Regions from separate parts of the Homo sapiens genome. Here region 1 is linked to region 2. Evidence: fine-mapped expression QTL. A gene starts in region 2. The other region holds a variant in brackets. All regions are shown on one strand. Distances are between the middles of the regions. Region 1 has its middle 8.8 kb from the start of OR2L8. Region 2 holds the start of OR2M4 (olfactory receptor family 2 subfamily M member 4).

Region 1 (5,395 bases), 290 kb before region 2:
CTGCGGAAGGGCAGCTGGGCACGCCTTCCAGACCGAGGTATCAGACGAGAGGCCCCCTGGGGACGGGGCGGTTACCGCAGTCTCCCTTCTTGCTCCCGACTGTCAGCCCTCCTCCCCTCCCATCAGCAGCTCAGGGATGGGGCTGGCTCTGGGGCCTCCTCTTCCATCAACCCCTCAGCTACGGGGCTGGTTCAGGGGACTCCTCCCCTCCCATCAGCAGCTCAGGGATGGGGCTGGCTCTGGGGCCTCCTCTTCCATCAACCCCTCAGCTACGGGGCTGGTTCAGGGGACTCCTCCCCTCCCATCAGCAGCTCAGGGATGGGGCTGGCTCTGGGGCCTCCTCTCCCAGGCTCAGCTGCCGCTGGGACCCACTCCCCTGAGCGCCTCTCCCCTAAGTAATGTTATTCATAGCAAAAACTAGAAAAACACATTTTAATGAAATAAATGTTCAGGTTAATTTTATTATAGCATGCCAACTAAATGTTTTATACTATAGAAATAAATATTTAACAAAATATGAAGATATATATGAAACTTTAATGAAAAATGATTAGCCTTTCACAATTGGAAAATTAAAAACAATAGTAATAAATGTTAACCATATTTTGGTGAATTGGACATCATAACATATTGTAGGCATACATGAAATATGGTACAAACATTTTAAAAAGAACAGTGTGGCAATATATATTAAGGACCTTAAATAAACTATGAAATTATCTTCTAATAATACAACTATTTAATGTTCATAATTTAGACATAAAATAAGCAATTATTATATATTAATAACATTTTTTCCCTGACAATTGAGTTTTTTTACTTGATTCCAGTCCTGTAACAGTCTCCTATCCCTGGTGTGCTAAGGAGTTTTATTTCAGTAGAGAATGAGTAAAATTACTAATATAATGATATATAAAAATGTATTGCTAAGAGACGTTCAAAATTGACTGGAAGTGCTAATGTTAATATTAGATGCATCAGGTGCTGTATTTTTTTAAAGCCTGCTTTTACAACTCATAATAATACCTAATGTGGACCCAAGAGCAGCATGAAATCAGAGACAGTAAAAATCCGAATAGCAAGATATTATTGTAAGCAAGAGAAAGTCATTCTGCTGAACAGATCTGAGGATGATATAGAAGTTTAGAAGTCAGAATTCATAGATTTACAAATTTCCAGATTAAAATACAAAAATAATCTGTGATAGGGCTAAAAAACATTTTTTTCCTGTTGGGGATATAGAAACATAGAAACGCCTACATTGAGGGTAGTAGAAGACTTCATGTAAATAAACATGCCCACACACACATGCACACATACACACTGACACACACACATATATTTTTCTTAATAAAGAGTGTAAAGAGCATGGTTCAATCAGTGTGGGATTGTAAAGCATACTTGGATGAAATTGGAAGTGGAAAGTAAGATATTTTAAACATTAACCACATACCTAAAGTACTGCACATAGAAATAATTAGGCTTAAAGGTAAAGCCTATCACAATCTAAAGACATGCATTTGTAGTGGTGCGTGTTCAGATACCTGGGTATTGTGGTGGAGATACACATAGTCTTTTGAACATTCCGTTGTAGGTCGCTGGTAGCTGGATATGTCCTTTAAACTTTTGTGGCAATTCATTTGAGAAGAAACGCAGCTTTTTCTATTGAGTTCTTATGCTATAAGTAAAGGATGCAAGACATTAATTAGACAAAATAAGGTAAAATTTTGTATTCGCTTAGAGAGTTTAAGAGGCTATTAGCCACTAGTCTCTATAGTGCCTAAGTAAATCGATTCTGCTTAATAAACTGCTACCTGGCTTAGTAAGTAAACAAATTGAAACTTATTTTAGGAAAGAAATATATATTCTTATATCTACATCAGATTCTCTTATGTAGAAACACTAGAGGGTGAATGAGGAGTTAATGTAAGCAGCATCATATTTTTGCTCATTCCTTTCTCTATGATTTCTGCTTCTTCTGTCCAAATTCTGTGAGGTGTCCTCTAGATGAAATTATCACAGGCATGGAAAAGGTCATTTTCCACTTGGTCCATCCTCATGATTGCAGTTGTAACATACTGGGACTCATTCATTTTCACATATGTATATGAGACTTAAATCATCCACATTTCAGGCCAGGTTAAGTTTCTAGAAATATTCTATGCTTTCCTTGCACTTACACTCAATCCTGTCGTCTACAGCGTTGGCACTGACAGTGTTCTGGTGGCAATGAAAAATATGCTCTAGAGCAACATTCTACATAAAAAAAAGAATAGGAAAATTCCTTTCACTTGTGTATTCCCTCTATTTCCACATTCAATGTCTATAGAGTGTTGTTAGTTTCTTTGGAAAGAAAACCGAACCTTCT[G/A]TCTTTCTAAGTGTAGAAAGATGTGGATATTTTCAAAACCCCAATAATAATAAAGTTTTTACATATGTTTGTTTTTTCAATGCATGTCTAAAAATGTATTGTTCCTCTTGTGGGTACCGATTTCAATCACTCAACACACTCTAGAAAGACAAAGATAACCTAAGGCTTCCACCACCCTCCCACTAAAATTGTAAGAATATATAAGAATTACATTTGAAATACAATCAAACCATTATATTAAAAACATGTACTAATATAATATCTGTGTTTTTATGAAACTTCCTAAAATTGTATTTCAAGTCTCACAATCAGTTTCTTTTCAAAAATCTACAACTCCACTTGAAATTACCATTATTCATTGAATGGTTTGTTTTGACACTTTAGTTTCCTCAAGTGAAAAATACATGCACATACACATATATACATACACATACTTACATACATTGATTGTAGTCAAATCAAGTTTCTCATTCTTTGTTGGAAGCATGAATACAATATTTAAGAATATCCTGAAAATTATGTCTTATTTCATGTATACATACAGGCTTATATTTTACAAACCCTTCTAACAATTTATCCTAAAAGTTATTGCAAAGAGAAAAATAAATGTTTCTATTAGGAATACTTTTAAATGGTTTTATTAATAGGAAAAACTAGAAAAACATTTTAATGAGGTAAATGTTTTAAGTTAATTTTATCAAGTTAACTAGATTTTGTATATTTAATAAATATCATAAAGTATTTAACAAAATATAAAGGTATCATAGCAAGCTTTAATGGGTGAAAGTGTTACTTTGCCTTCTATAATTGGAAACTTTAAGACAGTAACAATAATTGTTATCAAAGTTTTGGGTTGAATTTAACAGAAAACCTATAGGTATTCCTTATCCAACTCACTGTTGATGAGCACCTAGGTTGAATGTATGTCTTTGCTGTTGTGAATAGTGCAGCAATGAACATATGAATGCATGTGCCTTTTTGGTAGAATGATTTTGTGTGTGTGTGTGCATACGTGCGTGTGTGTGTGTGTGTGTGTGTGTGCGCGCGCTAAGCAATGGAATTGCTGCGTCAAATGGTATCCTTTTTAAATTTTTTGAGAAATCTCCAGACTGCTTTCCATAGCTGCTGGACTAATTTACATTCCCACCAACAGCATATAAGAATTCCCTTTTCTCTGCAGCTTCATCAACATCTGTGCTTTTTTTTAAATTTTTTGTAATAGCCATTGTGACTTGTATGAAATGGTGTCTCATTGTGGTTTTGATTTGCATTTCTGTGATGATTAGTGATGCTGAGTATTTTTTCGTATGCTTGTTGGCCACTTGTATGTCTTCTTCAGAGATGTGTCTGTTCATGTACTTTGTGCATTTTTTAATGGGGTTGTTTTTTGCTTGTTGATTTATTTAACTTCCCTATATATTCTGGGCATTAGATATTTGTCAGATGCTTAGTTTGCAAATATTATTTCCTATTCTGTAGGTTGGCTGTTTCCTCTGTTGGTAGTTTCTTTTGCTGCACAGAAGTTCTTTCATTTAGTTAGGTCCTGCTCATCAATTTTATTTTGTTGCTGTTAATTTTGGAGACTTATAAGTCAGGTAGAGGAGTAAGTATTTGGGTTATATCATAGATATTGAAAGGTTTGCTCTCTGAGGCATGTCAAAAGAGAGTTTAGATATATAAAGAATGGTGAATGGATACTAGACTTTCTGATGAACTAGCATTACCATGCCCCTCATTTATTTATTTACATGGTCATTGTAAAGGAGATATGGAATATGTAAGAAGTTTGTTATATGCATGATACTTGGAGAAATAGACATGGAAGATGAAAAAAATAGATGGATTTTGGTCTTGATTCCTCAATTAAACCAACAAATTCCTGTGGTGCTATTTGGACAGACGCCGAATGGAGAGAGATAGAGAAAAAGAGAGAGAGAGAGAGACCTTGTCATGAAAGAGAGAGACCTTGTCATGAAAGAATTTGTGAAACAAATGGACAAGCATTGGTACCTATAGAACCTAGTGATGGAGTGTGACTCAGAGCTGTGTACAAAGGCTGTCTCTTCATTTCATTAATGAATACAATGTGTGGCAGGGATACAGGAATGTCTCTTATTCTCTTCGGCATCTTAAAGTTTCTGTATGTTTCAGATTTTGTGGCATGGAGCCTTCCTAGTGAGAATCCCAATCATGATTAATTCCCATTTGGTCTCACAAGCTGGTAAATACTGGGAATTATTGTGTTACTATGACTGTAGCCTCCCAGTACCAGTCTTGGTTTCCTTTCTTTCTGTCCTTCAATCCAGACTGGCTTTCAGATACACACATACACAAAAAAACTACATGATCTCACTTACATATTGGGCCTAAAAATAATTGGAATAAGTTGCCCAGACTGGTCTCAAACTCATGGGTGCAAATCATCTGGAAACCATCCTCACAAAATGAATAAAACTAAATTCTGGGTTTTTAACCAAAAGCATAAACTTTTAGTAGAAGCATACAGTAAGCATGAACCAGCTTGCCCAATAACCTATTTTGTGTGGCTGCTTAGTGCTTAAAAGTCATGTAGCCCCTGTCACAAGGTCCTCATTTCCCTTAATTGCTTCTTTAGATATCATCTTTAATATTAGGAAACCTCAAGTTTTCTACATAAAATGTTTTCTAGATCCTGAATTCCAGTGGGTCCACGGAACCAGTGGGGCTACCGAGCTTGTCTGAGAAACTGACTCAGTGTACTACATGTTCTACTTGCCAATAATTAAACTAGTAATATAAATTATATAATATTGGATTAGTCTTAATCCCAGTCTCTTATTGATTCCTAATGACATTTATGAAAATAATTTGGTGTTCTAAATTTTCTATAAAAAATTGCCCAAAGTCATAAAGTAACTGAAAATAAATTGCTCTGCAGAGAAGCAGAAACCTGCCAAAATTTTTAAAAAATGTATTTGGAAATTAAATTAGAATAGTTTCAGTGCATTTAAATGATTTTTATTAGGGTAAATATATATAAGAGAAACA
Region 2 (5,395 bases):
TTCACAGTGGCTTTTGTGGCAGATAAGTGGTGGTGGGCCTCTGGCAGTGGTGGGGGTTGCTAGCATCAGTGCACACAGATGTGTTAGTGGTAGGGGTGCAACAGGCTGTCTGTGCATCTGTGAATACTAGGAGGCAGGGTACACTCATGCTGGTAGAGTGGGGTGGCAGGGAGTACATGCATACCTGTGCCTGCAAGGGATGGGAGATGAATTCCCTTAGAAAGCAGTGGGCGTGTCCCAGCAAAGCAGTAGCGGAAGGCTTCAGCTGGGGGAGCTATAGGTCAGCTGGTGCATGTCTGTAGGGCCAGTCCGCAGGAGCTCTCTGACAGGAGCAGTCTGTGGCAAGGTGGTGACGATGAAAGCCCCCAGGAAGCACATATGTTGGGCATCCAAAGCTGTGCTGCAAGCAGGCATGGCCAGGCTGGGGACCCAGAAGAGGCTGGCAGATGAAGAGCCTTCAGATTAGACTGGCCCTGTCCCACAGGCAAGACCAATCTGCTCTGTCCAGTTCTGACAGTCGCCCAAAGCCTTATAGAAGAGCCTGGTGAGCCTGGGGGGATGGGCATCCCTGGCTGTGATCCACTGCAGTCACTTCAATGCCAAACTGTCTGGGCTTTACGCAGGATGGAGTCCTGCCCCTGTCATCTCTCTAAGTAGCTCTCCTTGCAGCTCAAGTATCTTTGAGAATCATAGAGTCTTGTGCTGCCAGAATTCTGGAGATCCACGTTGAAAGCTGGCTACTCTTCACCTGTTCAACTCATGCCTTCCCCAGGAGTTGCATGCAAGGCTTAAAACCTAGATGATGGCCAGGCATGGTGGCTCACACCCATAATCCCAGCACTTTGGGAGGCTGGATCACAAGGTCAGGAGATCAAGACCATCCTGGCCAACATGGTGAAATCACATCTCTACTAAAATACCAAAAAAAAAAAAAAATTAGCCAGGCATGGTGGCATGCATCTGTAGTCCCAGCTACTCGGGAGGCTGAGGCAGGGGAATCGCTTGAACCCGGGAGGCGGAGGTTGCAGTGAGCCGAGATCGTGCCACTCCACTCCAGCCTGGCAACAGAGCGAGACTCCGTCTCAAAAAAATAATAATAATAAATAAAAATAAATAAATTTTAAACAAGTCTAGATGATGGGTTGATGTGTGCAGCAAACTACCATGGCACATGTAACAAACTTGCATGTTCTGCACACGTATCCCAGAACTTAAATTAAACTTTAAAAAAAGTCATTGCTGCAGACAAATGAAAGCTTTTGAGAGTGGAGAGAAGCAAGACCAAATGTAGACTTGTTTTGAATTAGTATAGTGAATTTACTGGAAAATGCAAAGGATATATCTTAAAGATATAGGCCACATACAAGTCTTTAGTGCCCCTTTAAATTGTCAATCACATGCTTGCATACGTTTAGGCATCTAAGAGCTTATTTACATTTATATCAGCTTAAGCATTTGGTGTTTTTTTGTTTTTGTTTTTGTTTTTGTTTTTTTGACGGAGTCTCACTCTGCCACCAGGCTGGAGTACAGTGGCGCGATCTCGGCTCACTGCAACCTCCACCTCCCGAGTTCAAGCGAGTCTCCTGCCTCAGCCTCCTGAGAAGCTGGGACTATAGGCACGTGCCACCAAGCCCGGCTAATTTTTTTTTTTTTCTGTATTTTAAGTAGAGATGGTGTTTCACCGTGTTAGCCAGGATGGTCTCCATCTCCTGACCTTGTGATCCGTCTGCCTTGGACTTCCAAAGTGCTGGGATTACAGGCATGAAGCACTGCACCCGGCCCAGCTTAAGTATTTGATACAATATACTAGAAATAAGTTAAAAATGTTAACACAATTGAGAAGGCAGGTTGACAGATTTCATTTACTTTGTAATAAATATTCCCTGTTTTAATTTTAATCGCATTTTAATAATCTGTAAAGATTTAAGTTTCTCATTAACACAATTTACTTCCTAAAGAAAGGTAGGCAGCCATTTATGACTTTATAGCAAGTAAAGAATGACAGTATTGGCAAAAAGTAACTAGAGCCTTGGGGTCCACATGGATTTTGTTTCCTAGGAGAAATTCTGAAAGAAGGCATGCCATCTATAATTGATGTCAGGGGATTTAACATTTTGTGGAGGTATAGAATTTAAGGTCCATGATGCTGTAGGGTGGATAGGCCTTCGGACAAGTGGGTCATTTGGACTACTGGAGTTGCTGCTTTTGAATCTTTTCTAGAAGAGAAAGAAGAAAAGGTTGTAATACAGCTCAGGCAGTGATTATTATATTCCAGAGTATAAAGAACCCAGAACTGATTTGGCGAATTTTCCCCTTGATCACCACCTGTGAGTAAGACATATAACACTCTTTAAAAGAAAAAAAATTCCGTTATGTCTTGTGCTGACCTTATATGACTTTATTGAGGAAAATCACGAGTTCATGTGCATTAAAAAGCTTTTGGAACACTATACAGAATCACACAAGTGTAAGCCTTCCTCAACCTGATTATTACAATTAGGTAGTTCTTCACAACTACCTAATTGTGGAGTATCCTGGAAATGTCCTCATTTCTCCTGCAATCCTGGACTCTCTTTCTGTTTCATACTAAAAATGAAGGAAAAGAAGAAAGAGAGACATAGTATTCTTAATGGTTATTTTAATTTATTGAATATTTATTGAAGCTTTATGAGAAACATAACTATCTTCTACCTGGTGGATCTACACCTCAACATGAATTTACAAAAACAATCATATACCAAGTGGTGTCTATCTACTGCTTCAAACATACATGAAAATTTGGACTTAAAAATTTTCTACATACCACCCAGTGTAAATTTTTAGTTTAGAAATTATTGGGGAAGTGATTCACTCCCACAAAGTACCCAGTTTTCTTATTTGTGTTCTTAATTTTTCATGAAATATACTAATTCATAAAATTCTGACAATCAATGTTATAAAGACGAAGTAAAGAAAAATTTAATAAAATCTGATTTAGTTAAATTCCACAGTGTGTGAGACATTCTTGAAATCTGGACACATTGAATATGCTACAATATGTGGTTGGAAATCTTCAGGTTGGTAAAAATCACAAGGTCTAGGGAAAAGCTGGACTCAGTGGGGTTGAGCTTCTTTCCAAAGACTTTGTGCCCACTTAGATCTCTTCATAGTTTATGTGGTTTCTCCTTCTCTGATCGCCATTAATATTCCAAAATTTCTTATCACTTCAGGCCCTCTTAATATTATTTTGTTTTCTTTTTATTTCTATTTTAGCTCTAATTTTAGCACTTATTTTCCTCATATGCCTTCACCTCTCTTCCAGACACTTAATTCTTCCTCTCACTTAGTCAAGTGCCTTCTATCATTTTCCTCATTCTTCTCCATTTTTCATTAATAATTGGCATAAAATCATATGGAAGAATCAAAATAGTTCTAGCAATGTGAGGATTTTACAATTTCATGTGACATTGTAACGCAATTCTATTCTTAAAATGGAAGAGCAAAGAAAGGTACTGCTCCTTCTTTATGTTGATACCTTCAAAATGAGGCTAGATTTTGTATTCATTTAGAGAGGCATCAATATTTTTATATATTCTTGTAGGAAATTTGGATTCCCTCTACATCTCTGCAGGATTAAAATAAAAGAAGTACCTAGAACATAGTAATCATACAAATGAATGAATGTGTCACCAGCTGAGGAGTTATTCTCTAGTTCAACATTTGCTATATCTTGTTATTTATCACATTCTTCTATTTCTAAACGTTAAAATGGATAATGTAAATTTTATTTTGGAATATTGACATAACAGTTTAATTTAGTTAAGATAAAATAAAGCCATGTTACTTTTTGTGTGTCATGAACATAAGTAAAGGGGTCTCTGTTATTTAGTTTTCCTGCTTTAAAAGGGATTTTACCATTAATTATAATCAGCAGAAGTTCATTTAGAGTACCAAGATATAAACAGAACATTTCCTGGGGAAGGTGTTAGCAGCAAAAGGATTTCAAACTAGTTTTCACTTTATAAATAAAGTGTTGTGATAGGCATATGCCACATACCATTAAGATGTAACAGAATCTGCTCTGGCCTTAAGGGTGTATAATACTTGGTTTGATGTACAAATTTGAATATATAGCTTGCTGATATGAAGTAGGAAAGCTTGCTATATGTCTACTTATGGGATGAGTCATGGATACATCCAAGAAAAAAGAGGAGATAATTGGATTTCTTTATAATTTCATTGAATTCCACAGAATAAATTTGAAAACTACTACCTGCTTAGTATTTCTTAGTGGAATAAAAAATAAACACCAAGGATAAACACTCACAATGGTAAATAATCTTCAGAAAATAGTCAGTATCAAAAAAAATTATATGAGTATGCAAAAATATTGATGTTTCTATACAGCTAAATACATTTTGAAAAATAGTAGTAGGAAATAACAACAAAGACATTTCATCATTTCAAGCTTTGAAATCTGGAAATTCAAAAAAAATTTGGTGGCAGTTATGTATATCAGGCAGAAATAACAGCAGGACTAGCTTTGGATTGAGTTTTATTTGGGATATAATTAATTTGGGACTCCAGGGTACTGTTTTACAATATGATGTTTTAGAGCCATGTTTGAAAAAAAGGCGGGGGAGGGGCTAGAGATAATAATTGAGAGCTTTTTACAAAGACCTGATGGTTGATTTTATTTCCACCATCTTCTTCTTCCACTGTTATTGCCTGGGGTTTTACCCTGGCTCCCTTGGATAAAGAAGGTGTTTGCTCCATGATCTTCGGGCTCGCAGATCTAACCTGTTCAAAGCATCAAATGTGCAATGTCCAAGATATTTTCTCAATGCAAAATCATTTTACTTCACTTCACATCTTTAGTCCACAACATAAATTTCCTCTTTGATATTTGCTTAATTAGAAACAAAATTGAAATGTATTTAAATACTCTGATTCTTTATATTTCTCCAGATGCATTTCTTGTAGTGCTCCCTGCTCCACACAACTACATCCTGAGTTCTGCCCATCTTGAACTGGGCTGAGTCAAATATTTTTTTTTTTTAATTTGTATTTTATTATAGGTTCCAGGATACATGTGCAGAACATGCGGGTTTGTTACATAGGTAAATGTGTGCCATGGTGGTTTGCTGCACCTATCAACCCGTCACCTAGGTATTAAGCCTCACATGCATTAAGTATTAGTCCTGATGCTTTCTGTCCCCTCAACCCCCTTAACAGGCCCCAGGGTGTGTTGTTCCCCCACCGCTGTGTCCATGTGTTTCAACTGTTCAGTTCCCACCTATGAGTGAGAACATGCGGTGTTTTGTTTTCAGTTCCCATTCTATAGGTTGCCTGTTTGCCCTGATGAATTATTCTTAGAAAACTGAAACACCTTCATTCATGTCCCTGCAAAGGACAT

Evidence for each region.
Region 1: its variant is fine-mapped to the expression of OR2M4 in prefrontal cortex (GTEx, PIP above 0.99).

Annotation. Positions count from the first base shown.
Region 1 is chr1:247,937,348-247,942,742 of GRCh38, forward strand. It overlaps a transcript of OR2L13 not described here and the pseudogene OR2X1P. Among named protein-coding and RNA genes, the nearest start is that of OR2L8, 8.8 kb to the right of the region's middle. The variant G/A (reference allele first, on the strand shown) is at 2,369.
Region 2 is chr1:248,229,254-248,234,648 of GRCh38, forward strand. It overlaps OR2M4 (olfactory receptor family 2 subfamily M member 4), which reads left to right and starts at 2,164. Exons shown (of 2, transcript NM_017504.2): 1 at 2,164-2,327.